Linked DNA regions of Homo sapiens: regions 2 and 3 are each linked to region 1. The links come from fine-mapping of genetic effects on gene expression. A gene starts in region 1. Each other region holds a variant in brackets. All regions are shown on one strand. Distances are from middle to middle.

The links. PIP is the estimated chance that this variant, and not a neighbour inherited with it, causes the effect.
Region 2: its variant is the best candidate, but not a certain one, in a credible set for the expression of RPP40 in T cells (TOPMed, PIP 0.54).
Region 3: its variant is the best candidate, but not a certain one, in a credible set for the expression of RPP40 in testis (GTEx, PIP 0.61).

What each region holds. Positions count from the first base shown.
Region 1 is chr6:5,001,231-5,006,456 of GRCh38, reverse strand. RPP40 (ribonuclease P/MRP subunit p40) reads left to right here and starts at 2,420. Exons shown (of 8, transcript NM_006638.4): 1 at 2,420-2,577; 2 at 4,212-4,356. The coding sequence starts at 2,455. LYRM4-AS1 (LYRM4 antisense RNA 1) reads right to left here and starts at 2,641. Exons shown (of 4, transcript NR_126015.1): 1 at 2,498-2,641. RefSeq lists silencers at 2,310-2,439, 2,570-2,819.
Region 2 is chr6:4,957,930-4,963,155 of GRCh38, reverse strand. No RefSeq gene overlaps it. Among named protein-coding and RNA genes, the nearest start is that of LYRM4-AS1, 43 kb to the left of the region's middle. The variant C/T (reference allele first, on the strand shown) is at 2,656.
Region 3 is chr6:5,042,376-5,047,601 of GRCh38, reverse strand. The region is part of intron 2 of LYRM4-AS1 (LYRM4 antisense RNA 1); the gene reads right to left. It also overlaps a transcript of LYRM4 not described here. Among named protein-coding and RNA genes, the nearest start is that of PPP1R3G, 40 kb to the left of the region's middle. RefSeq lists an enhancer at 1,781-2,980. The variant A/G (reference allele first, on the strand shown) is at 2,557.

The DNA.
Region 1 (5,226 bases):
GGCTGTAGAAACGCAGAGAGCAAGAAGAGGCTGCAATCAGGATGCGTGCTGCAGGCAGGGCCACAAGACTTACTGTGGGATTGCATGGCGGGTGAGAAGGGAAGAAGTCAGGGGTGAGTCCTTGTACTAGAGTCATCTGGATACTCCGCTCAGGGAAGAGGCGCCACATCTAGGGGTTATCAGCAGCCAGAGAGGAGGACTTAAAGCTGCAAGACTCTGTGGGGTCTCTCTTGAGAAGAGGGCAGTTTATATCTCTCAATACATTTTTCAGCTGATATTTACATAGATAGAATTTATTTTGCATCTTCAAAATATGCAACATTTTAAACTAAATGGTTTGCTGGAAAAGCTTCACGGTGCTTCCAAATACAATTGGTAGACCATCAGGATCACACCAGTCACTTTGTGGAGTTTTGGAATGTCGACAAAGGAGAGGTACATCCGTGATGTTTCAGTCTTGGGCCACTGCTACCACACACAAAGCAACTGTCTGGTGACAATTACATTAAATATGAGGTGACCAAGAAGCAATGCTTTAAGCCTTTTACATCTTAACATGTTATTAGTAGCTGTTATTTATAAAACATCTAGCTGCCATATTGTGATCTAGGAAATTAGTAGGGTTTTTTTTAATTAACTTGCCACGCCTTATAATTCTGCTGTTTAAAATAATGGGAAACAGGTTCTCATTAGGTTTTTCCTTGGAAAGAAAATGTGACATTTCAGTCATAGATTACATTTTGACTTTTTTTTTTTTTTTGAGACAGAGTCTCACTCTGTCGCCCAGCCTAGAAGTGCAGTGGCGAGATCTTGACTCACTGCAACCTCTGCCTCCCAGGTTCGAGTGATTCTTCTGCCTCAGCCTCTTGAGTAGCTGGGATTACAGGCATGCGCCACCACACCCTGTTAATTTTTGTATTTTTAGTAGAAAGCGTTTCACCATGTTGGCCAGGGTGGTCTTGAACTCCTGACCTCAGGCGATCTGCTCGCCTCGGCCTCCCAAATTGCTGGGACTACAGGCGTGAGCCACAGCACTCAGCCAGATTACCGATGTTTTTAGTGGCAGATGACTTTCCGGCCTTGTCTTAGTTTTAATTTTTTTTTTTGAGATGGGGTCTTACTATATTGTCCAGGGTGGTCGTGAACTTCTGAGTTCAAGTGATCCTCCCACCTCAGCCTCCCAAAGTGCTGGGACTACAGGCGTGAGCCACTGTGCTCGGCCAGATTACTGATGTTTATAATGGCAGATGACTTTCCAGCCTTGTCTTAGTTTTATTTTTATTTTTGGAGATGGGGTCTCACTATATTGCCCAGGCTGGTCTTGAACTCCTAAGCTCAAGTGATCCTCCCACCTCAGCCTCCCAAAGTGCTGGGATTACAGGCATGACCCACTGTGACTGGCTTAGTTTTAAATTCTTAATTATTTACCTTGTAAACTACTTAATTCCATTTCTTCCACATCTCATAGAAAAACTGATGTTCCAGGAAGATGTATCACCAATATTCTGCTGTTTTGTATCCTGCCAGTGCAGAATTGGGGCTGTGCCTCTCTAGTTTGAGAAGCATGTAGTAACATACTTGATTTTGCCCTGATCAGTAACGTACCGCATGCTGGGAGCCGCAGTCTCTTAACCGCTCCAAGCCCGTGACAGAAAAACGAAATGGAAAAATGACTTAGGAGAATTATCACTATTAACCCCCAGAAACAACACATTATTAAAAGCGGTTCTGAAGGGCTATTTAAAAGGGAACTCAATAGTAGTTTCAAAGGAGTCCTATTGTAAGGCAAAAATTGTGCTTTACCTTCCCGCACAACCTTCCCTAATGTTTTGGGAAGGACTGATACAAACTTTTAGTCCTGTTGGCCTGTGTTAATAATGGCCAAGAGGTCCCCAATGGGTAACAGAGTCCTGTGAACCAAACAGTGTGAGAAGTCAGAAAGCAGCTGGGTGTGGCCCCCAAAGCAGCTTAGGGGGTTACTTAACTGTGCGGCTACATTTCTTGACCATATACTAAAGGAACTGGGCCTTTCCATGCGATGTTTTCCTTTTATAACGGTGGCAGGAAGCGGTCCCTCTGAGGGGCCTGACCGAGGTATGCGCCGGCGCCAGGCTGGGGTCCAAGGGGCGCTCCGAGGCGGGGCCCACAGAGAGGGTTTAGGGCAATTCCAAGGGATGGCGGGGACGGAGGAAAAGTGGCGTTGAAAAGGCAAGAGCCAGGTTCCCAGCCACTGGGACAGTGAATTTACAGCTTCAGACATCCACCAAAGAGCGGCTGCGTGGGCTCCTAAGAAGTCTAAGAACTGCTCAGAAATCCAGCGCCGCCATCCCCACTCCACCGCCGCCAGGGGCGCACAGCAGCGGGTATGCGGCCGGAGGGAAGGGGCGGGGCGGGAGGAAGGGGCGGGGCGTGCCCCGCCAGCGGAGGCCGGGAGGACCAGGAACCCAGGAGAGCATGGCCACGCTGCGCCGGCTTCGGGAGGCGCCGCGGCACTTACTGGTTTGCGAGAAATCCAACTTCGGCAACCACAAGTCGCGCCACCGGCATCTTGTGCAGACGCACTACTATAACTACAGGGTGAGTCCGGCTGTCCTCGGCTTTTCGGGCCGTGCTCAGTCCCCGCGTGCGAGAGAGGTTTGGGGAGAGTGCTAGGCTTCGCGGGGCGGGGCCGCCGGCGGTACGCGGAGGGGCGGGGCCCTCGCCCGGCTTGCTGGGAGTTGTAGTCTCTTAACTGCTCTAAGCCAGTGGCTTGCAGGGCTACAGGACTACAACTCCCAGGATGCGCCGGGCGTGGGGGCGGTACCCAGTCTGGAGGGAGCTGTTGTCAGGGGCGTTCTGGCTGCTCACTCGTGTCAACCCGCCGAACTGGGAGTGAGTCCAGGGAGGGATTCGAGGTTCAGGGCCGGGACCAGGGAGTTAGGCTGTGGGGCAGCCACGTGCACCTCGCTTTTTCCCCAAATCAGGGCGGGTCTCGCGCCTCCTCCCCACCACTGCCTCCTCCCCAGCTTGAATCCCTCTCCCACCTGCGTACCTGTGGATCTCACCAGAGCATCCTGCCTAGGCTCGGCCCAGGAAGCGACTGATTTTCCTTTTTTTTTTTTTTTTTTTTTTAGACGGAGTTTCGCTCTGTCGCCCAGGCTGGAGTGCAGTGGCGCGATCTCGGCTCACTGCAGGCTCCGCCTCCCGGGTTCACGCCATTCTCCTGCCTCAGCCTCCCGTGTAGCTGGGTCTACAGGCGCGCGCCACCACGCCCGGCTAATTTTTGTATTTTTAGTAGAGACGAGGTTTCACCGTGTTAGCCAGGATGGTCTCGATCTCCTGACCTCGTGATCCGCCCGTCTCGGCCTCCCAAAGTGCTGGGATTACAGGCGTGAGCCACCGCGCCCGGCCGAAGCGACTGATTTTCTAAATTGGTTGTTGGAACTAATTTGATATCTGAGAGACTTCAAGAAACTAACCTTATCATGGGGGATTAAACATTTTACACTTTAAATGGATCAGCTTAATAACTCAGGTTTGACTGAGCAGTGTTTCAGAGATGTTAAGTGGTGACCTGATCAGTCAGAACAGGCTGGTGTTTGAGCCTTGGGACAGTGATGACTTTTACAATGTGGCAACATTTGAAGCCTGCCCTGTTTTTAACACCTATTTTGGATGTCAAGCTCATCACAGCAGTCAGGGATGTATACTTTAACTCGCCTGTTGCATTTTTCTGTCTCGAAAATGAAAACATACAGGAGCACCATTGCTTGCACATAGATTCTTAGTAATTGGATGTCCATAAATTAATTCCTTATGCCCCGACAGATAGTTTGTTTCATTCCAGGATAACACCAGGGTAAACAAATCAAGGGATATTCAATTATACTATATTTCCTTGAAAATAAAATAGTGAAAGGAACAGGACATAAAATATACAGCATTGCTAATTTGCAAAAGATTAAATGCAAGCACGAGTTTTCCATTAAAAGTATTCTGTTCAATCCCCTTCCTGTACTGTACGTTTGAATGCAGAAATGAAAAACTTAAGTAGTCAGATTTCTCTTTGCCTGAGATAGGTAAGTTAACATAAGAGTTTTGTTGCCCGTGTTTTTATGTTCCAGTGAAACTCGTGGAGAAATAACAACTTTCATGATTTTGTTTCATTCCTAAAAACCTGGGTGTTCATCTTCATGGAAGTAAGACCTTGTTTGTATTACACATTCCAATAGGTTTCATTTCTCATTCCTGAATGTGGGATACTATCGGAAGAACTGAAAAACCTGGTCATGAACACTGGACCCTATTACTTTGTGAAGAATTTACCTCTTCATGAATTAATTACACCTGAATTCATCAGTACCTTTATAAAGAAAGGTAAGAAAAACCTGAAATGGCTGTGAACAAGGCTGGATGAGGAAGGGTAGGGAGACCACATCACGATGCTAGGGCTGTTGTTTTGTTTCAAACAGGGCCTGTGGTATAGTCTGTGTGGTCAGGTGCACACGCGTTCTCCCCCGCATTCTCATCCTGTTCTTTCTTGTACCCTCTTTAGGTGGTGGTTTCTGATTGCAATTGGCCACAAGTGTTGGATGGGGATGTTGTAACATGACAGTATCCGTCCCCTTAAAATGAGGATTAATGGAGAGGAGAGACTTGCAGTCTGTGTTCAGATGCACTGCTGTTGAAGATGTGGCTGCAAAGACACTATGCTGTCAGCAGTCCCACAGCAGCTGTCTCAGAGGGTTGGTCTCCCGATACAGCCACAGCTACTGTTCACAGAGCAAAGTGCTTGTTGGGGTCCAGTGTCTTCTGCTTAGATTTTGTAGCCATAACCCCTCCTCTACTCACCCCATTTCCACCCATATCTGCTGGGTTGGACTGGTTTGTTTCAGTTGATTCCTGGGAGCCATTTGTTTGAAACTATTTCAGAGGGCCTTTAGGGATTCCACCCACACTACATAACTCACCTGTACAGTGGCCACATGCTTATCTTGTGGTAGCCCCCATGTGTGTCCTCTCCAGTGAAGATATGAAGAACTCTAGTTACCAGTAGCTCCTCTCATTCTGACACTGCTGGGGCGACTTATGAGCTGGGCATCTTGTCTGGTCTCATCACCGTTATTCCTTTCATCTATTTCAAGGCCTGACACCACTCTGTGAATTACGTGGACAATGGCTGTAGCAGGCACTGTTAAATGTCTTACCAAATTTAACCCTTGCAACAACTTTATGAAGCAAGCCTAT
Region 2 (5,226 bases), 43 kb after region 1:
TTTATTTGAAAAGTAAAAGTTTCTCATAATCACACCCACTAGAGGTAATTAGTGATGATCAAACCGAAAGTTTGGTGTCTTTTCTGTGCTGACATGACTGTCCCTCACCGTGGAAATCACCAAGAAGTTCCTGCTGGGGATAATGAGTGTCAGGCACCAAGCTTGCATCAGGAGTGATGGCACACATTCCAAATGAATTGCATTCCTGAGTTGAAGACAGTGAGTAGCAAAAGTTTATATACCAAGGCTTTGTCTAAAAACTTACCTAATTTTATTTCACCCAGGAGCTTGACAGTGACAGCGTGGCTAGCAAAAATACCTATAATAACATACATATGACAAGTCTACAAATTGCTTCTAAAATTCAAGGGGCAAGAAATGTCACATTTACTTATTGTCATAGAAAGAGAAAGCCCAGGCTGGGCGTGGTGGCTCATGCCTGTAATCCCAGCACTTTGGGAGGCCGAGGCGGGTGGATCACGAGATCAGGAGATCGAGACCATCCTGGCTAACACGGTGAAACCCCGTCTCTACTAAAAATACAAAAAATTAGCTGGGCGTGGTGGTGGGCGCCTGTAGTCCTAACTGCTCAGGAGGCTGAGGCAGGAGAATGGCATGAACCCGGGAGGCAGAGCTTGTAGTGAGCCGAGATCGCGCCACTGCACTCCAGCCTGGGTGACAGAGCGAGACTCTGTCTCAAAAAAAAAAAAAAAAAAAGAAAGAAAGACAGAGAAAGGCCAAGAGCCCACGACACACCATTACCCTGGGGTCTATAGAGCGCAAAGGATGAAAAAGGAGAGAATGCTGTTCTTGGGTGTGGTTTGGTTGCTATGAAATCTCTGTTCCAGCCCTTACTGGGGGGGGTGACCTTACGTAAATTATATAACCTCTTTTGGTCTCAGAGTTCTCATTTGAAAAATAGGGCTGATTGTAATTCTCATCTAAGACAGTAATAAATATTCATCACCATCATTGCTACATGTTCTCTTAAAGAGTTGCACAGTATGGGCATAAGATCATTTGTACATCCAATCCCACATAAAGGGACATTTAAATGCAGAGAATAGACTATTTTAGCAAGCTGTTACAGGACGTGAAGATGAAAATTTTGTCTGAGACCCCATCTATATCAATGTCTGTTTGTATTTATCTCTATCTATCTATCTATCTATCTATCTATCTATCTATCTATCTATCTGTATATTTATCAAAAGTGAGCTGTGAGAATGACCACCCTGGTTGTATTAGTCGTCTACTGTTGAATAGCAAATTACCCCCAAACTCACACTTTCTGGAACAAAAAATCCAGATGTAGCTTAGCCAGATCCTCTGTCTAGAGGTCTCTCCAGGGCTGCGGTTTAAAGGGTGAACCAGGCTGGACTGGGAAAGGATTCTCTCTCAAGCCCGCTCCTGTGGGCACTGGCAGGACTCAGCTCCTCACTTGATGTTGGTGGGAGGTCGCCCTCGGTCCCTTGGCTCATGGGCCTGTCCTATGGGTACTTCCCAGCATGGCAGCTGGACTCTCCCATAGTAAGCCAGCCAGAGGAGGCAAAAAGAGAACATGTGTGCACCAGCCACAAGTCACAGTCTTTTACAGCCAGATTTCAGAAGTGACTGCTTTTGCCATGTTCTGTTTGTTAGAAGCGAGTCACCAGGTCTAGCCGTACATCATACACAGATGTGAAGAGCAAGAGGTCGGGATCACTGGGAGCCAGTTTAGAAGCTGCTGAACGCACTTCCTTCTCCTTCTCTCCTCCTCCTTCTCCTTCTCCTCCTTCTCCTCCTTCTCCTCCTCCTCCTCCTTCTCCTTCTCCTCCTTCTCCTCCCTTCTTGTTCTTCCTTTTCTTCTTCTTCTCTGAGGATAAGTAACAAGGTACACGCAAATTTAGAACTATATATCTTTCAATAGAACTTAGTCTGCTGTCATTATGAAAAACTTTTTCCTACCATGCTTTTTGCTTTAATAGATATTTTGATATTAGCATAGCTACACCAGTTTTTGTTTGGTTATTGTTTGCACAGTATATATTTTCTACCTTTTTACGTTCAACTTTTCAGTTTCCGATGCGTTTTCTTTTCTTGTCAACAGCATATATGTATATCTAGGTCAATATATTTTGAATACAGCCTGAAAATATTTAGCTTTCACACAAGAATTTAGTCTATTTTTATTTAATGTGTTTGTTAATATTTTGAGATAAAATATACCATATTTTCTATGTGCTATTATTTGTCCTGCCAGTCTATGTTGCTTTTTCACATCTTTCTTGCACATTTCGGATCAGTTAAGTATTTTTCCATAGTCTCCTTATGTTAGTTTAGAGGATTATATATATAATATACACACACGTTCAAAAAATTGAGACATAATTGAAACAACATAAAATTAACCATTTTAAGAGGCAAACAATTCAATTTTTAAAGGATATTTACAAGGTTGTGTGAACATTACCATTATTTAATTCCAGAACATTTTCATACCCCCCAAATAAAAACCTGTACCTGCCGCTCCCCACTCCGGTTGCCCCATGTCACCCCCTGTCCCTGGAAACCACGAATCTATTTTCTGTTTCTATGGATTTACCAATCCTTGGCATTTTATATAAATGGAATCATACAATATGTGGCCTTTTGCATCTGGCTTCTTTCACTTAG[C/T]GTAATGTTTTCAAGGTTCAACCACACTGTAGCATGTATCAATACCTCATTCATTCATCTGTATTGCCAGATAACATTCCATTGGATATGCCAATTCATTGTTTATCCTTTCTCCAGTTGGTGAATATTTGGTGGCTATTATGAATAATGCTGCTATGAACATTCACATACAAGTATTTGAGTACCTATCTTTAATTCTCTTGGATATATACTAGACGTAGAATTGCAAGGCTTAAGAGTTCCTTAAGAAGTTTAACTTCATCCTTATGCCAGTTTGAGGAACTATCAAGCAGTTTTCTACTGTGGCTGTACCAGTTGACATTTTCACCAGCAAATGTGTGAGGATTTCAATTTTTTCACATGTTCATCAACATTTGTTATTGTTATTATAACTGAACGTATTAGTTCAGTTTTTGGTATTTTCTTGTTATAGTCATTCTAGTGGGATAAAGTGATGTCTTACTGTAGTTTGATTTGCATTTCCATAGTGGCTGACATTGAGCATCTTTTTTTTTTTTTTTTTTTTTTTGTGACAGGGTCTTGCCCTGTCACCCAGGCTAGAGTGCAGTGGCACATTTGCAGTTCACCACAACCTACTTGGTAATGGTGTACATATAAGTTTTATATGTTGTCAGATTACTTCATTGAGAATATCTGCATTTGTATTAATAAGGAATGTTAACATAAATATATAGTCTATATGGTCTATAGTTTCCTTGTGATGTCTTTGTCTGGTTTTGGTATTAGGGCAACACTAGCCTTATAGAGGTAAGGAAGCATTCACTCCTCTTATTTTGTGGAAGAGTTTGTGAAGGATTGGCATTGATTCCTTTTTAAACATTTGACAGAATTTATGAGTGAAGCCATCTAGTGCTGGGCTTTTCTTCGTAGAAAGTTTTTTGACAGCAGATTCAATCTTTTTGTCTATTTTAGTTTTTTCTTTCTTCTTGAGTCAATTTCAAGTTTGTGTCTTTCTAGGAATTTGTCCATTTCATTTAGCTAATCTAATTTGTTGGGATACGATTCCTCAGCACTCTCTTATAGTTCTTTTTATTTCTCTAAGGTTGGTAGTAGTGTCCCCCCTTTTCATTTCTGATTTCGGTGATTTGAATAGTCTCTTATGTCCTTGGTCAGTCTAACTAAAATTTGTCAATTTTGTTGATCTTTTCAAAGAAATGACTTTAGGTTTCATAGATTTTTCTCTACTGTTTTTCTGTACTTCATTTTACTTACTCCTGCCCTAATCTTCATTTCTTTCCTTCTACTTGCTATGGGTTTAGTTTGCGGTTCTTTATTTCTAGTTTCTTAAGGTAGAAGATTAGGTTATTGATTTGGCATCTACTTTTCTCATATAGATGTTTTATTATATAATTTATTACATAAATTTGGTTATGTTGTGTCTTCATCTTCATTCATCTCAAAGTATTTTCTAATTTCTCTTGTGGTTTCTTGTTTGACCCATTTGTTATTTAGGAATGTGGTTTAATTTCCGCATATTTTTGAATTCTCCACATTTCTTTGTTATTGATATCTCATTGCATTCCATTGAGGCTGGAGGACATACTTTGTATGATTTTAATCATTTTAAACTTTTAAGACTTGTTTTATTGCCTAACATATGGTCTATCCTCGAGAATGTCCCAGGTGCACTTGAGAAGCATATGCCCTCTGCTGTTATTGGATGAAGGGTTGTATAGGTGTGTTACGTCTAGGTGGTTTAAAATGTTGTTCCAGTCTTCTATTTCCTTGTTGATCCTCTGTCTAGTTGTCCTATGCAGTGTGTTTCATACAGGTGATAGACATATATATGTATATAATTTACCCAGTTTTAGTATATAAAATTTAAGAAAATAAGAATTAATGTTAAATACATTAGATCTTAGCTTTTATTCTAATACCTGTATTAAACCATTTATTAGCCATTTAAGTGCTTGTGACTCTAAAGGTCATAAAACAGATTTTAAATTTTGAAATGCTAGTCTCTTATCTTGCCAAAAAAGTAAGTTTTAAACCAGGGTTGAAATCATTCAATGTCATTTTCACCAAAGCAGACATTCGTTTGCTTCTTCAGACAGACATGCTGTCAGAACGTTCCCTAGGGAAGAGGGAGAGGATTCCTGTGATAGGAGAGGATTCCCCTGTTGCCAAATAGTGAAGGTATTTATTTTTAAATGCTAGTTAGTATTGAGAGAGCTCGGTGGGCTGGTCCAGCTCTTACAGATGCAGAAAGCTTGTAGACCATCAGAATTCCCTGGTAAGTTTAGCGTTGACTTGAAAATAGCCTAAATCCAGAGCCACTGGGCAGGCTGGAACCACCCGTTCTGCCATGCTGCCCCACCACTCTCACTTGCAGAGAATCACAGGCCCATGGGATGCCAGGATGGGCTGGACACCACAGGCCATTGGTCCCCTCCTTGCCTTCCCACTTAAGGGAAGAGTGCATAGAGCAGTGGAGTGTAGCCCTCTCTTCCCAGGTGCTAGGTCACCAACAGGCTGTGTGATGGTGGGCAAGTGGCCTGACCCTTCTGGGCCTCAGTTTCTTCACATGTAAAGTTAAACTGGTGCACGAAA
Region 3 (5,226 bases), 41 kb before region 1:
GTATCTTGGATTAAAATAATAACTGTGGGCCAATAAAAGAATGCATCATCACTGCCATATTATTGGATTTCTACAGCTCTGAAGTCAAGTGGATCCTATACAAACCAGAAAGACAAAGGAATATGAGGAGACCTCATCAGGATGGAAATCACAATTTTAAGGCAGATACATGTTTTTGGAAGATCAACCTTATGCAATATTGAGTTCATGAAAATGAGGAGGTCTAAAAGTAGGGTGACCAACCATCCTGGTTTGACAAAGACTGATAGATATTTCCTGGGGTGCAGGACCTTCAGTGCTAAGACTGGGGAAGTTTCAGAAAATGCACTGATAGTGGAAATCTAAAGTATACTCAGAAATATGTTGATCGTCTTATCTAAAAGATGGTGACAGATTGTGGTAGCTAGTCTCCAAAGACGGTTCCCCAATAAATTATACCTTCCTGAATCTGTGACTTTGTGTAATCCTATCCCCTTGAATCTGGGTTGACCTGTAGCTTTTATTTTTTTTGAGATAGGGTCTCAGTCTGTCACCCAGACTGGAGTGCAGTGGCATGATCATGGCTTACTGAAACCTCAACTTCCCTGGGCTCAGGAGATTCTCCCACCGCAGCCTCCCAAGTAGCTGAGACCACAGAGGTGTGCCAACATGCCCAGCTAATTTTTGTATTCTTTTGTAGAGACGGGGTTTCACCATGTTGCCCGGGCTGGTCTCGAACTCCTGGGCTCAAGCGATCCACCCTTCTTGGCCTCCCAAAGTGTTGGCGTTACAGGTGTGTGCTACCATGCCCCACCGTGTGGCTTATTTTTGACCAACAGAATATGACGGAAGCCATCTTGGTGTGAAATCTCAGACTAGGTCATTAGAAACCTTACAGCTTCCACCTGGGTATCTTGGCATATTTACTCTGAGGGAAGCCAGCTGCCATCTAAGTTCAACTACTTTAAAATCACCAAGCTCAAACTAAGCATATGGGGAGCCTGTGTGCAAAGAGCGAGATGCCTGTGCAGCCGCCAGCTGTCCCAGCTGTCCCAGCTGAAGCACCAGATGTATTAGTAAAGAAGCCATGTGGGACGTCCAGCCTTCAGAAGACGGCAGCCACGCGAGAGACTCCGAGTGCAAATCACCCAGCTGAATCCAGTCAGTCCACACAATTATGATAAAAAATAGTGGAATATCTGTAATCCCAGCACTTTGGGAGGCCGAGGCGGGTGGATCACGAGGTCAGGAGATCGAGATCATCCTGGCTAACACGGTGAAACCCCGTCTCTACTAAAAATACAAAAAATTAGCCGGGTGTGGTGGCGGGCACCTGTAGTCCCAGCTACTCGGGAGGCTGAGGCAGGAGAATGGCGTGAACCCAGGAGGCAGAGCTTGCAGTGAGCTGAGATTGCACCACTGCACTGCAGCGTGGGAAACGGAGTGAGACTCCATCTCAAAAAAAAAAAAGTGGAATATTATTTTAAGCCACTAATTTTTTCCTTAAAAAAGCTGTGGTAAGCTCATGCTGAAGGCCTATTTCCTAACCTACACTGGAGACTTCTTCCTTACTCCTGTGCCTAGGGGAATGTGCCCAAGCTCTGGGCAGAGTGCCCCGTGCTCATGCAGGTAGACGTTCCCGCTTCCCACTGCAAAGCCCACTAAGCAGCACGATGTCCTGCTCTTTTAGTTATCCAGGCACCAGAAGCCCAAAGGGGCAGCAGAAAAATACTGACAATAGAGGTAAGTCCGTTCTGGGTAATTCAGTTCATAAAGCTCGCTTTGGAGGATTTCATTTCTCCATGTTAAATACAATATGTTTTTCTTTTGAGACACCTCTTTTCGGCAGGAAAATCCTGCCATCATCATTTCCCATTTGAGTTCCGTGAGCTTCTACCTAGAGGCAAAATGGAAATGGGAATTTTATAATGAAAGAAGCAGACGGGGAGAGGAATCTGCCGTCTTCTTAACAAGCCAGTAAGAGGCACTGAAAATCTCAGAGAGCTGCCAATGACAAGCATGCTCATTCTCAGCGCAGCTGCTCTTTTACAAATCGTGGTAACATAAACAATGTAAAATCACCATTAACCGTTTCCAGAACATTTTCATCTTCCCAAACTGAAACTCTGTACCTTTTAAACAATAACTGCCCTTTCCTCTCTCCCCGAGTCCCTGGCCACCCCAGTCTACTTTCTATCTCTGTGAGTTTGATTCTCTTTGGTACCCTATAAAATGGAATCATAGAGTATTTGTCCTTTTGTGCCTGGCTTACTTCACTTAGCATAGTGTCCTCAAGGTCCATCCATGTTGTAGCACGTGGCGGGACTTCCTTCCTTGTTAAGGCTGAATCATATTTCATTGTATGGATGGACTACATTTTGGTTATCCACTCATCTATGGTTGGACATTGGGTTGCTTCTGCCTATTGGCTGTTGTGAATAATGCTGCTGGGAGGATGAAATGTGCAAATATCTCTTCAAGACCCTGCTTTCAATTCAAGCCACTGAATGTTGAGGTGGTTTGTTACATAGCAATTGGCAACCGGATGTTGAGTCACGATTACAGCATGCCACCAAC[A/G]TGGTACAAGGATGATGATCACTGAAGGAGAGAAGTGTGTTGTCCATGTGAGTGCATGAGGTCCAGCTGGAGAGATTATTACCTGACTTAGTGTCACTAGGATCTCTGCTTTGGAGTGGAAGCTCTCACTTTCCTGCGTGCCCAGGAGAAAGCATAAGGCAGGCAGGCTGTAGAGTAGCAGCCATTTAAAAATTGCACTCATAACTGTGTAACAACAAAAGAAAAGATTATTCTGGATTTGCATTCAGATTGGGCAGACTGCTAGTGTTTCTTCCACCAGGATGGTCTGAGAGCCAAGCTTGGAAAATCAGAAGCGATTGGGTCATCCAGTGCAGGACAGTTTAGCACCATGAATGGCTAATTAAGCTTGGATTCCATCACAAACTAGAGGGGATACATTTTCTTCTGTTGAAATTAATCAGGGCCGAGGAAGGAAAAAAAGAAACCATGGCCGCCTTTTTGAAACAAATCCAACAAACACGTCAGAGGGAAGCTCCACGCTGCACATGGTGATCTGGAAGTAAAGCAGGTGAGCCCTGCCCTCCTGAAGCTGGACCCTGGCACTGGTGATGAGGATAAGAGGTTTCCCAGCTGTTTAAAAGAAAACAGTGTGTCAGCCGGGCATGGTGGCTCCCGCCTGTAATCCCAGCACTTTGGGAGGCCGAGGCGGGCAGATCACTTGAGGTCAGGAGTTCGAGACCAGCCTGGCCAACATGGTGAAACCCCATCTCTACTAAAAACACAAAAATTAACCAGGCGTGGTGGTGTGCGCCTGTAATCCCAGCTACTCGGGAGGCCGAGGCAGGAGAATCACAGGTGAACCCAGGAGGCAGAGGTTGCAGTGAGCCAAGATCGTACCACTGCACTCCAGCCTGGGAGACAAGAGTGAAACTCCGTCTCACAAACAAAAAACAAACAAACAAAAAAAACCCCACAAAAAAAAGTGTATCAATACAAAAAATTTGAGGTATACTAAGGCCAACGGAGAGGATTAGGAGATAGTTTCACACAGTTCCCAAGAGGAAGGTGTGCACCACACCACAGGGCCGCACAGGGAAGCAGGAGGCAGAGCGAGAGGGGGGCTGTGGACAAGAGCCTTTTTTTGTGATTTCCTTGGGAAGAAACAGGAAGGCAAAGTAAACAGACTCGGGATTGGCCAGTTTGCTAATTTCAGCAGGCTCTGGGGTATAGGGGCTGTCCCTAATTGTCTGGTACCTGACTTTGGGTGATTAGGGAAAGTGGATAGTGGCCCAGCATGTGAGAGACCAATAAAGGAGGTGGTTGGGGTGTGGGCTCTGGATTGGTTGGTTTGTATTTGAAAAGTGCGCCCCTGGGAGGAGGAGGACTCCCGAGGAATGGGGGGTGGCACAGAGGAGGCGACAAGGGAGGCCTGAGGCTGAAGCAAAGCATACTGTTGGGTTTTCCAGATCAAGGAATGTTTGGTGTATGCATGTAGGACAGATATTAAAACATCGACTTTATAGACGCCAGAAACATGGTCAATACATTGGCCCTGTGACACTTTAACATCAAACTAAGGCACCTTTGCAGCAATGATGGATGAGACTTAGAAAGAAGGCCATCATTTGCCCTAAATAGTACAGAAAATATTTTTTATGAGAGTTGAAAGGAGGAACAAAAATTGAAGTATAAGGAGTCCTTGTAGGCCAGCCTGTATCTAAGTTTCCCATTCACATGGCATTAGCAGACGAAATAGATTTGAAATTTCCAGGGTCTCTACCAATATCTTGGTGGATTGCAGAGTATGTTAAAAGTATGAGAAATATATATATATCTCAAAAAAATTGGACAATAATATCTTGGTGTATTTCTCAGGTCATGGTGGCAAGTCCTGCAGTTATCTTGTTGGAGGGTATTATCTGAGAAGTCAGTAAAGTACATGTAAAGACTGGTGATATTTGTGTGTAACCAAGGGGATGGGGTGGTTGTGGTCGTTACAGTTGGGGACAGGGCAGGAGGTCCTGGTGGAAAGCTGGAGCATACAGTAGAAGTCACTAGGGAGTGTATGACCCTCTCCCCAGGGTCCAGAGGATTCACTGGCCTGCAGCAGCTGCCTCTTGGGGAAAATAATACTCTTCGTCAATTTTAGAATGGCATTGAGAGTAGTAGCTTCTACCAGGTTTTCCTTTAGGTGTGGAGGGGACGGTGCATGTTTTGGCAGAGAGCAAGGAACATACCAGGATCATGGGCCAAGCAGACAGTAAATTCAGGAAACACAATAGAGTTCCTAATTCAAAAGAAGAAAAGCAACAAATGTCCATGTCCATTTTGTCAGCACCTTGAGAGTGTCACTGGGTTGGAGGCTTTAGTGTCCAGGTGATGTATCTCTAATAGCGATGTCTTGGGCTAGGGTGATGTTGTCTAAGGTGATGTCATCTCCAGCTGCGAGCTTCTGAGGAATGTCATCTGGGATGTGGGTCTGAGGTACCCTGTGCAACTGCAGAAAGTTGGATGTGATTAAGATCTTGTCTGCAAAGATAGTGTGCAATGGCAAAGCTGTTGAGGTCCCCATGGGTAGCCTAGAAAAGGTAAATTGTGACCCGTTAGAGGTGAAGGCAAACTGTGCTGAAAGGTTGTTGAAGGAGGCAATGAACAGAACACAGCAGCCAAATCTGTAATAATAAAATACCAGTCATTGACTGGGTGGTG